3 separate regions of the Homo sapiens genome follow, and all the other regions are reported to be linked to region 2. The links are microRNA targets in miRTarBase. Many come from high-throughput screens and were not tested one by one. Region 2 holds a microRNA gene; each other region holds the end of a gene's coding sequence.
The links. Region 2 holds the annotated microRNA hsa-miR-637 (ACUGGGGGCUUUCGGGCUCUGCGU, at 2,014-2,037, opposite strand). A microRNA usually pairs through its seed, bases 2 to 8, with sites in the 3' UTR of a target mRNA and lowers its output. Matches are read on the target gene's strand: a 7mer-m8 pairs with bases 2 to 8, a 7mer-A1 pairs with bases 2 to 7 and ends in A, and an 8mer does both.

Region 1: miRTarBase lists NCKAP5L as a target of hsa-miR-637. Seed matches in the 3' UTR shown: 7mer-m8 at 3,123-3,129 and 7mer-m8 at 3,116-3,122.
Region 3: the mRNA of CBX6 is a reported target of hsa-miR-637. Seed matches in the 3' UTR shown: 7mer-m8 at 673-679, 7mer-m8 at 2,389-2,395 and 7mer-m8 at 3,726-3,732.

The regions. Positions count from the first base shown.
Region 1 is chr12:49,788,134-49,792,190 of GRCh38, forward strand. It overlaps NCKAP5L (NCK associated protein 5 like), which reads right to left. Exons shown (of 13, transcript NM_001037806.4): 13 at 3,019-3,918. The coding sequence ends at 3,706. Among named protein-coding and RNA genes, the nearest start is that of NCKAP5L, 38 kb to the right of the region's middle. RefSeq lists an enhancer at 2,614-3,456.
Region 2 is chr19:3,959,416-3,963,479 of GRCh38, forward strand. It overlaps MIR637 (microRNA 637), which reads right to left and starts at 2,097; the gene lies at 1,999-2,097. It overlaps DAPK3 (death associated protein kinase 3), which reads right to left. Exons shown (of 9, transcript NM_001348.3): 7 at 1,594-1,746; 8 at 644-689; 9 at 1-222.
Region 3 is chr22:38,862,748-38,866,804 of GRCh38, reverse strand. It overlaps CBX6 (chromobox 6), which reads left to right. Exons shown (of 5, transcript NM_014292.5): 5 at 1-4,057. The coding sequence ends at 596. Among named protein-coding and RNA genes, the nearest start is that of CBX6, 7.4 kb to the left of the region's middle. RefSeq lists enhancers at 66-877, 996-1,873, 1,874-2,753.

The sequences.
Region 1 (4,057 bases), not on the chromosome of region 2:
GTGTAAGGGTTCTATTTTCTCTACATCCTCACCAACACTTGTTTTCTTTTGTCTTTTTGATAAGAGCTATTCTAACTAGAGTGAGGTGGTATTTCATTGCAGTTTTGATTTGCATTTCCCTGATAATTAGTTATAACATTCAATTTCAATTCCTTTTTTTAAAAACCATGAACATATACTCTTTTTTTTTTTTTTGAGACAGAGTTTTGCTTTTGTTGCCCAGTCTGGAGGGCAATGGTGCAATCTTGGCTCACTGCAACCTCCGCCTCCCAAGTTCAAGTGATTCTCCTGCTTCAGCCTCCCGAATAGCTGGGATTCCAGGCATGTGCCATCACGCCTGGCTAATTTTGTATTTTTTAGTAGAGATGGGGTTTCTCCATGTTGGTCAGGCTGGTTTCGAACTCCTGACCTCAGGTGATCCACCCGCCTCGGCCTCCTAAAGTGCTGGGATTACATGCATGAGCCATTGTGCCTGGGGAACATATACTTCTATAATTTCTATTCCTTTAACAATTAAAAACCTTTTAAGGGGCCAGACACGGTGGTTCACACCTGTAATCCCAGCACTTTGGGAGGCCGAGGTGGGCAGATCACGAGGTCAGGAGATTGAGACCATTCTGGCTAAGATGGTGAAACTCCACCTCTGCTAAAAATACAAAAAATTAGCCGGGTGTGGTGGCAGGAGCCTGTAGTCCTGCCTGGGTGACAGAGAGAGACTCCGTCTCAAAAAAATAAAAAAAAAAGTTTTAAACGAGAAACAATTATTCTCTGCAGCAAACTCTAGATATATACCCTCATTCTGTAATCCTGTGTGAGTTAGTTCAAGCATATAAATAAATTACTTAAGGCCACATGAATTTGAAGTTAATACAGGTGAGCATTTCTATAGTCTCGGGAAAAAATTTTTTTTAACTTTTTTTTTTTTGAGACGGAGTCTCACTCTGTCGCCCAGGCTGGAGTGCAGTGGCGCGATCTTGGCTCACTGCAAGGCCCGCCTCCTGGGTTCAAGCAATTCTTCTGCCTCAGCCTCTGGAGTAACTGGGACTACAGGCGCGTGCCACCACGCCTGGCTAGTTTTTTGTATTTTTAGTAGAGACAGGGTTTCACTGTGTTAACCAGGATGGTATAGATCTCCTGACCTCGTGATCCACCCACCTCAGCCTCCCAAAGTGCTGGGATTACAGGCGTGAGCCACTGCACCCGGCCTTAAAACTTTTTTTGATAAAGAAAACAAAACAGGTTGGATGCAGTGGCTCACACCTGTAATCCCAGAACTTGGAGAGGCCAGGAGTTTGAGACCAGCCTGGGCAACATAGTGAGACCCCATCTCTACAAAAAAAAATTTTTTTTTTAAAGAAAACAAAGCACACTATTTGTAGAAATCTACAAAAGGGTAAAGAAGGAAAAAAAAACCCACTGGCTACCCAGAGAAAACTTGAGTTAATGTTTTTGGGACATTTCCTGCAAAAGGCAAAGTGCCCAGTGAAGTTGAACCTGAAGCCTTGTCATAATCTTTTGCTGATGCCTTGATGCCATTTTGGGGGATGGGGGAGGTGGCCTGGCAGTTTTGTCTTCCTTTGTTTGGAAAATCCAGCAGAATGGGTCTTGCACATTGCAAAGGCAAACATTCACCTATTATTCTTGGAGAAAACAGTGAATTTACCTGAATTCTGCAGGAAGATGTTGCAAACTGAGATATGAAGTGTTCTGCCTTAGTAAGGATCAAATGGTCTTTTAGCCTAACCTTTCTTTGAAGTGCAAGAAATTGATTCCCCAGGAGTGTCTTTAAACTCAACTGCATGTCCTCCTCCACAGAATCATTTTAGATAAAATACTGGGTCTGTGTGAAGGGCACACAATTATGTAGGCTGTGGGGTGGCTCATCTGGATCCAGGGTCTCTTAGCAGAATGCTGGGGGATTTAGGAAGTTTCCCACCATGGAACAGTTGGTAGGCAATGGCTGCCTCCAGGCGTCAGGTGTGACTGATGCCACCTGCCCTGCCTTGGTCAGTCAGCCCACATTGCCCTGGAAACCAAGGTGACGCCTTGTATTTGCAAACACCAGAGAATAAAGCCTAGGCAGATGGATCAGACCCTGGTGGTAAGAATGCGGATGGACCCTCTGGTCTCAGCTTGAAAGAGGTGGAGTCCTGCATCAAACCTACTATGCCAAACTCCTTCCCCAGAAGGAAATAGGAGAAATATCCTGCAGGCAAACAATTCTGTTCTAACTAGGAAATGAGGTAATCTACCAAGTTCAAGCAGAGAAGAGGGCTTGAAAAACCAAGAAATAAAAAGTGGGAAGGAGGTAGACCTCTTGAAGCCCACCTGGCAAGAAGCAGATTTACAGCTTGGTAATATTATGCTTAAGCCCATAAAAGCAGAAAAGATAGGACAGTGGGATAGGAATCTGGAAGTAGAAGACAAGAGGTAAGAAAATGGGATACTGACTTAAAAAAAAAAAAAAAAACCCAGACATCTGACTTGACACTCTCCGTCTTGTTAATTTCTTCAATGATGATATTAACTAAGAAGGGGTAGGAAGAGAATTGGGGAAGGGGTAGGAAGAGGAGAATGCTGAGAAGAAAGTCTGGCTGATGGGACCAGCTCGTCTGGATTAACTTTCTAATCTTCTATAGAGGAGGAAAACCAAGGTCTGGAGAAGAGATGCAACTCTACTCAGAGTCTGCATGTCCCCCCCAGCCTGGGACACGTGGGGCCTGAGTGCATGTCCACAGCCATCTTCCCCAGCTCCCTCTCCAAGGGGCCACCCAGCCTCGCGCCGTGCCCAAGCCCTGGCCCAGGAGAATCTCTCCGAGCCCAGATACCCTTCCGGGCCTAAGCAGGCCCTACTCTCCCAACCCTCAGTTACCTTCTGGGATGACTCCAGCCAGTTGCCCTGGTGAGGGGGCTGTGTCACAAGGGGGCCTGGGGTCCCTCAACCTGGCACCCATGCAGTGTCCCCCGACCTGGCCTGCCTGAGTCCTCCCACACAACAAGCCGACTCAGGGGCAGGGAGGGGGCCTCCACATTTTATTAGGGATACGGCAGAAGCAGAGGCAGGAAGCAGAGCAGCCGCATTTTAAACAACACATAAATTAACCGCAGTGCGGGGCTGGGGGCTGGGGGCTGGGCCAGGCGCTTCAATATATAAAAACAACAACAAAAAAGACGGACGAACAGACCCCAAAGGCATGGGGCAGAGGAGGGCAGCACCATCCAGACAGCAGGGAGGACCAGGGCAGAGAGAGAAGGCAACTTGTCCCCCTGGCCCCCAAACTCCACCAGCACGGGGGCCTCCAGGAGGGCCTCGCGAGGGCTTCGGGGCAGAGGAGCAGCCGGGTTGGGCAGAGATGGCACGGCTGGTGGGCAGGAAGCCCAGCACCACAAGATGGCTCAGCCTGAAGTAGGGACTGGAGGGCTGCGACACAGTGGCCTTTAACCCCCAGTCCCTTCCAGGAAGAGCCTTACTCTGGGTGAGAGAAGGGACCAAGGGCGGGGTCTCTCCCTGAGCTGAGCACGGTCATCTCATCCGCCGAAGCAGTGGGTGGTGGGGTGTGCCAGGGACCCCCTTTTCACCTTCTTATCCACCTGCCTCCTTGGTCCCTTCAGGGAGGGGTCCCCGTCTCCGGGGGCTGGGCATGAAGAGAGCCGGTCCAGTCTGTGGTCCCCAGCTCCAGCGGGGCCGTGGCGTGGCGCAGCCCCTCAGCCCTGACTCCCACAAGAGGACAGCGAGTCGTAGAGTGAGTCACTGAGAGACTCCGAGGTCTCCAGCCCTGGGGGGCCCCCGCTGGCCACTCTGCCTTCCTCGGCCATGTCCGAAGTGCTGGGGGTGCGGCTACCCCCGAAAGGTGGGCCCTGGGGCGTAGGGGACGGGCGGCTGGGCTCCTGGCTTCGCTTCCGGTCCACGGGCAGGGCCTGGGAAAGGAGGGGCAGCTCGGGAGGAAGCTCCTCTCCACCTTTCGGCCCAGCCTCAGAGGCACTGAGCTCTGAGGGGCGTCTGTGCACCTGATGGGGGGCTGCTCCAGAGGGGGCCCAAGGTGGGGTATACTTCAGA
Region 2 (4,064 bases):
GTGGCAGAGCCGCCGGCTGCGCTGCAGCTCGCGCAGGCCCTCCTCGGCGGCCGCCGCCTCCTCCAGCACCTTGGAGAAGCGCTCGAAGTCGGCGTAGCTGTTGTTGGGCGGCAAGCTGGAGTGCGACTTGATGGTGTACTCCTTCAGACGCGTGGTCTTCAGGCGCCGCCGCTCGGGCTTGCGGCCGCTGTCCTCACCACGCACGTTCCGCCGCCGGATCGCCTAGGAAGGAGGGAAGCCTGAGCGGGGTCCCCGCGATGCCACCCAGCCCCGCCAGCCCCCACCTGCCAGTGTGAACTGAGGTTCAGGGGCTCATCCGGCAGCAGAGTCAACGCCTCGTGACGGAGACTGCCCAGCCCGACGCAAAGCCGAGAGTGCTCTCTCGAGAAAAACGCTGCGGCCCTGGCCCCAGGAGTCAGCCCCGTTGGACACACACCAGCCAAGGATGCCACCAGGTCTGTCGGGTGCTGGACATCCCACGCCCAGGACCCAACCCCCGCCACACAGGCTCACTCCTCTGGGGACCCTCCCCAGCCACTGGGGGTTGTCACATCCACAAGCCTTAAATGCTGAAGGCCCCCCGGGACCCCAGCGAGAAGGCCAAGGCGGGAAGCCCAGGGAGCTCCCCCACCTCCCCACTTACCTTAATCCAGGAATGTTCCAGGCTCTGGGCAATGGTCATTCTCCGCCTGGAAGACCCCCGCTCTGGTTAGGTACACCTGCACCATCTGTCCCGTCCTCCCGTGAACAACTGACTCCCGGGACCCCCAAAAGCCCTAAAGTCGCCCCCCAGCCTCTGCTCAGCCAACCACAGAAGCTGAACAAGGGTACTGCAGGGAGCGTGGGGTTTTCTGGGGGGTGGTGGAGAGAGCTGAGACCTCAGGCTGGAGTCGCAAACCCAGGCGCCCGAGAGAGGGACTGGGCGGCCATGGAGGCCCGGGGAGGCCTACGAGTGAGGGCTCAGCACTGCCAGAATTCTAAGTGTTTACAGGAAAACAAGTGACCTGGAATTTTACATGGATCCTTACTTTACACACCGGCAACTAATTAAAAGTTTGCTAAAAACACAGCAAGCAGCCAGACACGGTGTCTCACGCCCGCAATCCCAGCACTTTGGGAGACCAAGGCAGGCAAATCACAAACCAAGGAGGTCAGGAGTTCAAGACAAGCCTGGGCAACATGGTGAAGCCCTGTCTCTACTAAAAATACAAAAATTAGCCAGGCGTGGTGGCGGGCGTCTATAATCCCAGCTACTTGGGAGGCTAACGCAGGAGAATAGCCTGAACCCGGGAGGCAGAGGCTGCAGTGAGCCGAGATCACGCCACTGCACTGCACTCCAGCCTGGGAGACAGAGCAAGACTCCGTCTCAAAAAAAAAGACTCCGTCTCAAAAAAAAAAAAAAAAAAAAACCATGGCAATGGCCAGCTTGGGCCACCAGTTTATCAGTTTACTCTCTCCAGCCCAAGGGGTAAGCAATGTCTGATCCCCAGCCGCAGGGAGGTGGCGCTGGGAGGAGAGTCCTCTGGAGCCTCCGTGGGTGGAGTGGGCCTGTGTCCCATGTCCCACCCCGTGCCCCCTGCCGGCCCCTCGTACTTGGGATCTTTGACGAGCAGCCGGCGAATGAAGTCCTTGGCCAGCTCGCTGGTGTTGCTGAAGTACTCCTCGTCGAAGTCGTAGTTCACGGCTGAGATGTTGGTGAGCGTCTCCTGCTTGGTCTCGCCCAGGAACGGGGATGCACCGCTCAGGCTGCGAGACAGGCGTGGGGGCTCAGTGGGGTCCTGGGCTCCCACCACGGCCGCGCCGCCTCTCCGGCTGCCCACGACAGGCGGAGCACAGAAGACAGGCTGACGGCAGGTGCCTGGGCCACTCACACTCCTGAGCCCTTAGAACCTTCCTGCAACGATCCCAGACACCACCCAAGAGGCATTCAAAATCCACCCCCCCACCCCGCCACTGACAGCAGCAGAAATGAACAGGCAGAAGTCTCCTTGGAGACTCGAAGTATCTGTGCAGACGCAGAGCCCGAAAGCCCCCAGTGCTCAGTAACGCCGAGGGGAGGGTAACTGCAGTGGGGAGCCCGAGCCAACACCTTAGCCAAAGGATCAAGGTCAACAGCCCGGCAGTGAGAGGCCCCAACAGCGTCTGCCTCCCAGCCTGACGCTGGGAGGGTGACACAGCATCATCCCTGGGGTTTTGAGCAGAGACACTGAAGCCCCGTCTGATCGTCTGATCGTGACAGCGCACGAGACTAAACGTGGACTCAGACGCCTTCTGCAAAACACCTGACCCGTGAGCACAAGTCAGGGTCAAGGTCATGAAAGCCAGACAGAGGAACAGCCTCAGACTGGAGGCGGCGAAGGAGCTGAATGGCTAAATGCCGTGTGGGGACCTCAGAGAGGACAGGAGTGGAAAACGGGGGTGTCTAACCACCTCTGGCACTTTAAATTTTTTAAATTTTTTAGAGACGGAGTCTCGCTCTGTCACCCAGGCTGGAGTGCAGTAGCGCGATCTCGGCTCACTGCAAACTCCATCTCCTGGGTTCATGCCATTCTCCTGCCTCAGCCTCCTGAGTAGCTGGGACTACAGGCACCCGCTGCCACACCCAGCTAATTTTTGTATTTTTAGTAGAGACATGGTTTCATCGTGTTAGCCAGGATGGTCTCAATGCCCTGACCTCGTGATCTGCCCTCCTCAGCCTCCCAAAGTGCTGAGATTACAGGCGTGAGCCATCGCACCCGGCCCATCTAGCACTTTTGTGATTAGCGTAGCACCAAGGCTAACGTCTTGGTGTTCATAACGTTCGTGTTCATGAAAAATGTAAACTGAAGGAGGAGGAAGCTGCAGGGGGCGTCTGTGCTGTTTCTGTTGCTCCTTTGTAAGTCTGAATTATCTGAACATTTAAAAAGAATACAAACGGTCTAGCCCATCTCCTGAAGCCTTTGGGTCCGCTCACGCACTACAGCGGGCTGGGCCCACGCCATTGTTTATTTCCTTGCTTACTGAATGAGCTATGCCCATTCAATATGGCTGGGCAACACAGTGAAACTCCACCTCTACAAAAACTTTTAAAAATTAGCCAGCTGGGCACGGTGGCTCACACCTGTCATCCCAGCATTCTGGGAGGCCAAGGCGGCCGGATCACTTGAGGTCTGGAGTTCAAGACCAGCCTGACCGAAATGGTGAAACATCGTCTCTACTAAAAATACAAATAATTAGCCAGGCATGGTGGCAGGCACCTGTAATCCCAGCTACTTGGGAGGCTGAGGCATGGGAATCACTTGAACCCGGGAGGCAGAGGTTGCAGTAAGCCTGAGCTGAGACGGGGCCTTGGCACTTCATCCAGCCTGGGCAACAAGAGCGAAACTCTGTCTCAAAAAAAAAAAAAAAAAAAAAAAAATTAGCCAGCTGGGTGCAGCGGCCCACGCCTGTAATCCCAGCACTTTGGGAAGCCGAGGCAGGCAGATCACCTGAGGTCAGGAGTTCAAAACCAGCCTTGATCAACATGGTGAAACCCCGTCTCTTCTAAAAATACAAAAATTAGCTGGGCATGGTGGTGGGCGCCTGTAATCCCAGCTACTCAGGAGACTGAGGCAGGAGAATCGCTTGAACCTGGGAGGTGGGGGTTGCAGTGAGCAGCTGAGATCGCACCACTGCACTCCAACCTGGACAACAAGAGCAAAACTCCATCAAAAAAAAAAAAAAGTCCGAGCATGGGAGCATGGTTGTGTGCACATGTAGTCCCAGGTACTCAGGAGGCTGAGGTGGGAGGATTGCTTAAGTCTGGGAGGTGGAGGCTGCAGTGAGCTAGGACAGCACTCCAGCCTGGGCAAGAGAGTAAGACCCCGTCTCAACAAATAAAAATAATAAACAACAGCAGGCCCACGTGTGGCCCAGGGACAGGAGCCAAAACCCAGCGTGGGGTCGGACCCCTTCCTTGCACTTCGAGAGGAGGCTGGGCTCCCTAGCAGCCAGAGGGACAGGAGCACACACGACCCCCAACCCGGAGCCTGCTCAGCCGCTCTGTGAGTGTCCTGCCTTCAGAACTCTCCAGAAGCCTCTGTGAC
Region 3 (4,057 bases), not on the chromosome of region 2:
TCAGCGAGAGCGTCCTGCGTACACAGATCCGCCACATGAAGTTCGGCGCCTTTGCGCTGTACAAGCCTCCGCCCGCCCCCCTGGTAGCCCCGTCCCCCGGCAAGGCTGAGGCCTCAGCCCCGGGCCCTGGGCTACTTCTGGCCGCCCCCGCCGCCCCCTACGACGCCCGCAGCTCTGGCTCCTCCGGCTGCCCCTCGCCTACACCACAGTCCTCTGACCCCGACGACACGCCCCCCAAGCTCCTCCCCGAGACCGTGAGCCCATCCGCCCCCAGCTGGCGCGAGCCGGAGGTGCTCGACCTGTCCCTCCCTCCCGAGTCGGCAGCCACCAGCAAGCGGGCACCGCCTGAGGTCACAGCTGCTGCCGGCCCGGCACCTCCCACGGCCCCTGAGCCCGCCGGTGCCTCCTCCGAGCCCGAGGCTGGGGACTGGCGCCCCGAGATGTCACCCTGCTCCAATGTGGTCGTCACCGATGTCACCAGCAACCTCCTGACGGTCACAATCAAGGAATTCTGCAACCCTGAGGATTTCGAGAAGGTGGCTGCTGGGGTAGCAGGCGCCGCTGGGGGCGGTGGCAGCATTGGGGCGAGCAAGTGAGGGGGCTCCACCAAGGAGGGGGGCTTGGGGGGGCCCTCCTGCCCGAAGTCATACTCTTGCTCCCACCCCACCCTTGCCCCCAGCCCTCTCTCCCTGTGCTTTGCTTGTCTCAAATGGCTCGGTGTTGACCCAGGGATGGGGCTGGGTAGTTGGGGTCCCAGAAAGCCGGGGGTAGGGGCCACCCTGGAATGGGGCAGGGGAAGGGCACACCCCCTGCCCATGCATGGTAGCCCACTGGGTGGTTTCTGGAAAGCCCTAGAAACTAGGGTTCCTCTGCCCCTTCCACATCCCACCTGTCTCTCTAGCTTGCTTCCTGCTCTCCTGTGCGGCGTCTGATTTCTCGGTGCTAACCTGGCAGCTGTGGGGCCCTTAGGAGCCCCCCACCGAGGGTGGACACAGTCCCTTTCCTTCCTGCAGATGCCTAGGCAGGAGGAGGGCTTCCTGCCTGTTTGGCAAAGTCCCAGGCAGAGGCCAAGGATGAGGCCTGACTCGGCTCCTCCCTCCACATCAGCCAGGGCATCAGAAGTTGGGCCAGGGCGGGGTCTTCCCTGCTCGATTTTGGACGAGGCCTAAGTAGACCCCCTATGCCCTGCCCCAGCCCTGGCTCTTTCCTAACCCCCTCAACGGTGGGAGGAACTGGCAGAGGGTGCGCCTGGCCACAGCCTCCCCGCATCTAAAGGCCCCTTCAGTTCTTGACCAAAGGTGCTACGAGAACCTGCCGTGGAAACTTCCAGTTGTGCGTCTGCCCCACTCGCTGTGTTTGTCCGTGGGTTCATACATGCATTGGGTGCTAGGCCCCAGGCTGCCGGGTGGCACCCTTTACAGTTCCTTTGAACAGGGGCATTGAAGGCCTGGACTGCCTCTCGCCTCAGTAGGCCTGGGGACCAGGCTTGGGTCTGGAGGTTTGCTGTGGAAGTCACCAGGCCTCCCCTCCTGGCCCAGGTGTGCTGGGGGCACCGTGCCCCCCACCCCCCTGCCCTCCTCAGGGTGGTCAGCCCAACCTGTCGGACCTTCACTTCACATCATGGTGGGGACCGAGATAGAGAGGGAGACCCCATTCCAAGCTCCCTCTTCCTCCGGGTGTTTGGGGAGGATGCTGAAGAATCCATTCCCGAGGGCCTCCCGGCTTGTCCCAGCCCCTCTTTTGCTTCTGACCACGGAGGCTTTCTCACAGCCCAGCCTGCCTGAAGCAAAGGAGGCTCCCGTGTCCTGGGCAGCTTCTGTTTCCCTCTGCTGCCTGGGAGCTGAGGCACCCGTGCCAGTGGCAGAGGCCACAGCCCCAGCCTTAGGCCAGGCCCTGGGAGGGCAGGCAGGCAAAGGGGAGACCAGAGGGTCTGTGTTCTCCAGGAGAATGAGGGTGTTGGTCCCAGAATTGGGACCGGGGCCCCGCTGGCCAGCCCTGGGCCACTTCCCGGGTCTCCATTGTGCGTGGGTGGCGTGTTCCAGGCGTGGCTGGAGCTGGCTTCCTGGCTGTGCTGCCATGGGCCCCTCCCTCAGAAGCACGTTGGCAGGAGGCCGATCAGAACCCTAGCGCCTTTGGTCCTAAGAATGGGAGGCTGCCTTCCTTCCCAATCTCCCTGCCAGGGCCCACAGCGTGGCCCTAGCCCTCCCCTCCCCGGGATGTAGAACGGGGACCCTCGCAGGGTTGGGGCGGGGGCTGATACTCCTCGGCCCCTCCCTACCCTGCCCTGTGTGTTGGCTTTGTGGCCGTCCAAGTGCCAATTGGCTTTTCGCCCAAATAAGGGCTGGTATTTCTCCTCTGTCCTTGGAGGTGATTTCCCCCTGACCCCCTCCCCCAGGTGAGTGACCACCTGGGTGCCAGTTACAGGTGTTTCCAGAGACCATAGAAATGTGTTTTCCTGAGAGTTCGTGTCATTCGTGACTTTTTTGTAAAGAAGTTGTGTTTTCAGAGGTGATTTTATGACAGGAAAGTGAAAGAATTAGTTTTGCAAAAAAACAAAAACAAAAAAAGAGGAAAAAAAAAAGAAATAGAAAAAAATATTGTGGGATTCCTATGGGGGGGTGGCGGGGGAGAAAGAGCTATTTAAGAAAAAATAGTAACGCAGTGATTGCACAGGTGAGGTGGCAATGTCAGGATGGGGCGGAGGCCTGGGCCCAGCTGGCAGGTCCCCTGGCATCGCAGGCACTGTGGAGAGGGCCTGGACCCAGATCTCCACACCCGTGCTTGCTCAAAGGGAAGGACAACAGCGGGCCCCCGGGAGCTAACCCAAGCTGCAGGTCCCGGCAAGCTGAGGTTTGGGAGGGTGGGGGTTGTCACTGGTGATTTTCTCCAGGGGGCTGGTGAGTGGGCAGTTTGGTTTCTTGCCCCCTTCTGTTCCTTTCCCAGTTGTTGGGCCATCTGGTCCCCACCACCGCCACCCTATGGGGGAGACCTCCCTCCCCACGGGTCACCCTAAAGCCCACAACCTCTCTGAGCCTCCCTGGCCTGAAAGGGGATGCAGGCTTCAGGAGGCAAGAAGCTGGGCCCCTGGGGGTGGCTGGGGAGAGGGAATGCATTTCCCTTGCCACAGGTGGTCTGCTTCTGCTGGCCTGAGCTCCAAGTGGAGCAGCCCGGGCCAGCCTTGGTGCATGAAGAGGCACCAGGCACACCGCCTTGAGGTGGGCAGTGCCCATGGGGGCCCGAGTGGATGGGACCGAGGGTGAGTGGAGCCTCCTTCCTCCCCTCTCTAGTACCCCCGCCTCCCACACACTTGCACGGATCGGCCTCCCTTGGGAGATCAGCCTCCATGGGCCCCTCGTCCACCCTTGCTGCTTTCCATTTGCCTAATTACCAAGCAGAAGTTGCAATCTGGTTTGCTTTATTTTTGTATGTGAAATAACCCCCAAAGCCCAATCTCCTCCTACGTTCAATATTGGTTGGGGCATCCGTCATCTCCCCTTAAGTGCGCCCCCTCCCCACCCAAGTATCATAGGAAACCGGTGAGGTCTGGTGTCTCTGGTTTGAGACGGTAAGTTGGGACCCATCCCTGTCTGGGTGCCCACTCTGACCTTTAGTTTGCCCTTCTGTGAAATGGGTGTATTGGGTAGCAAGCCCTCTTCAGAAAGCGCTGCTGGTGTCAGAGCAGCTGCCCAGTACCAGGTGGGGGGTCAAGGTTGCTGGTACTGGGGCCCCCAGCTGCCCACAACCCCTCTTTGTTCTCACCCTGCAAAGGGGTCAAGGTCAAAATGAGCCTCATCCTTCCTATGATCTGGGAAGAGGTGATGATCAAGTCCCCAACTTCAGTGTGAGGTGGACAGAGTTGGGGGGATGGCCCCTTTTTGAAGAGGTGAAAATGGTTTTGGAGAAGCGCAGCTGCTTCACTGGGGGAATGCGGCAGGGACTGGGGCCCAGGATGCTTTGGCCTATGGGGAAAAGCCCTTTAAAAGGCAGGGCCCAGGCCCTGGAGCCAGCACAAGACTGGCCTCGAGCCCCTGAGCCAGGAGGTCCTGGAGGAGAGCCA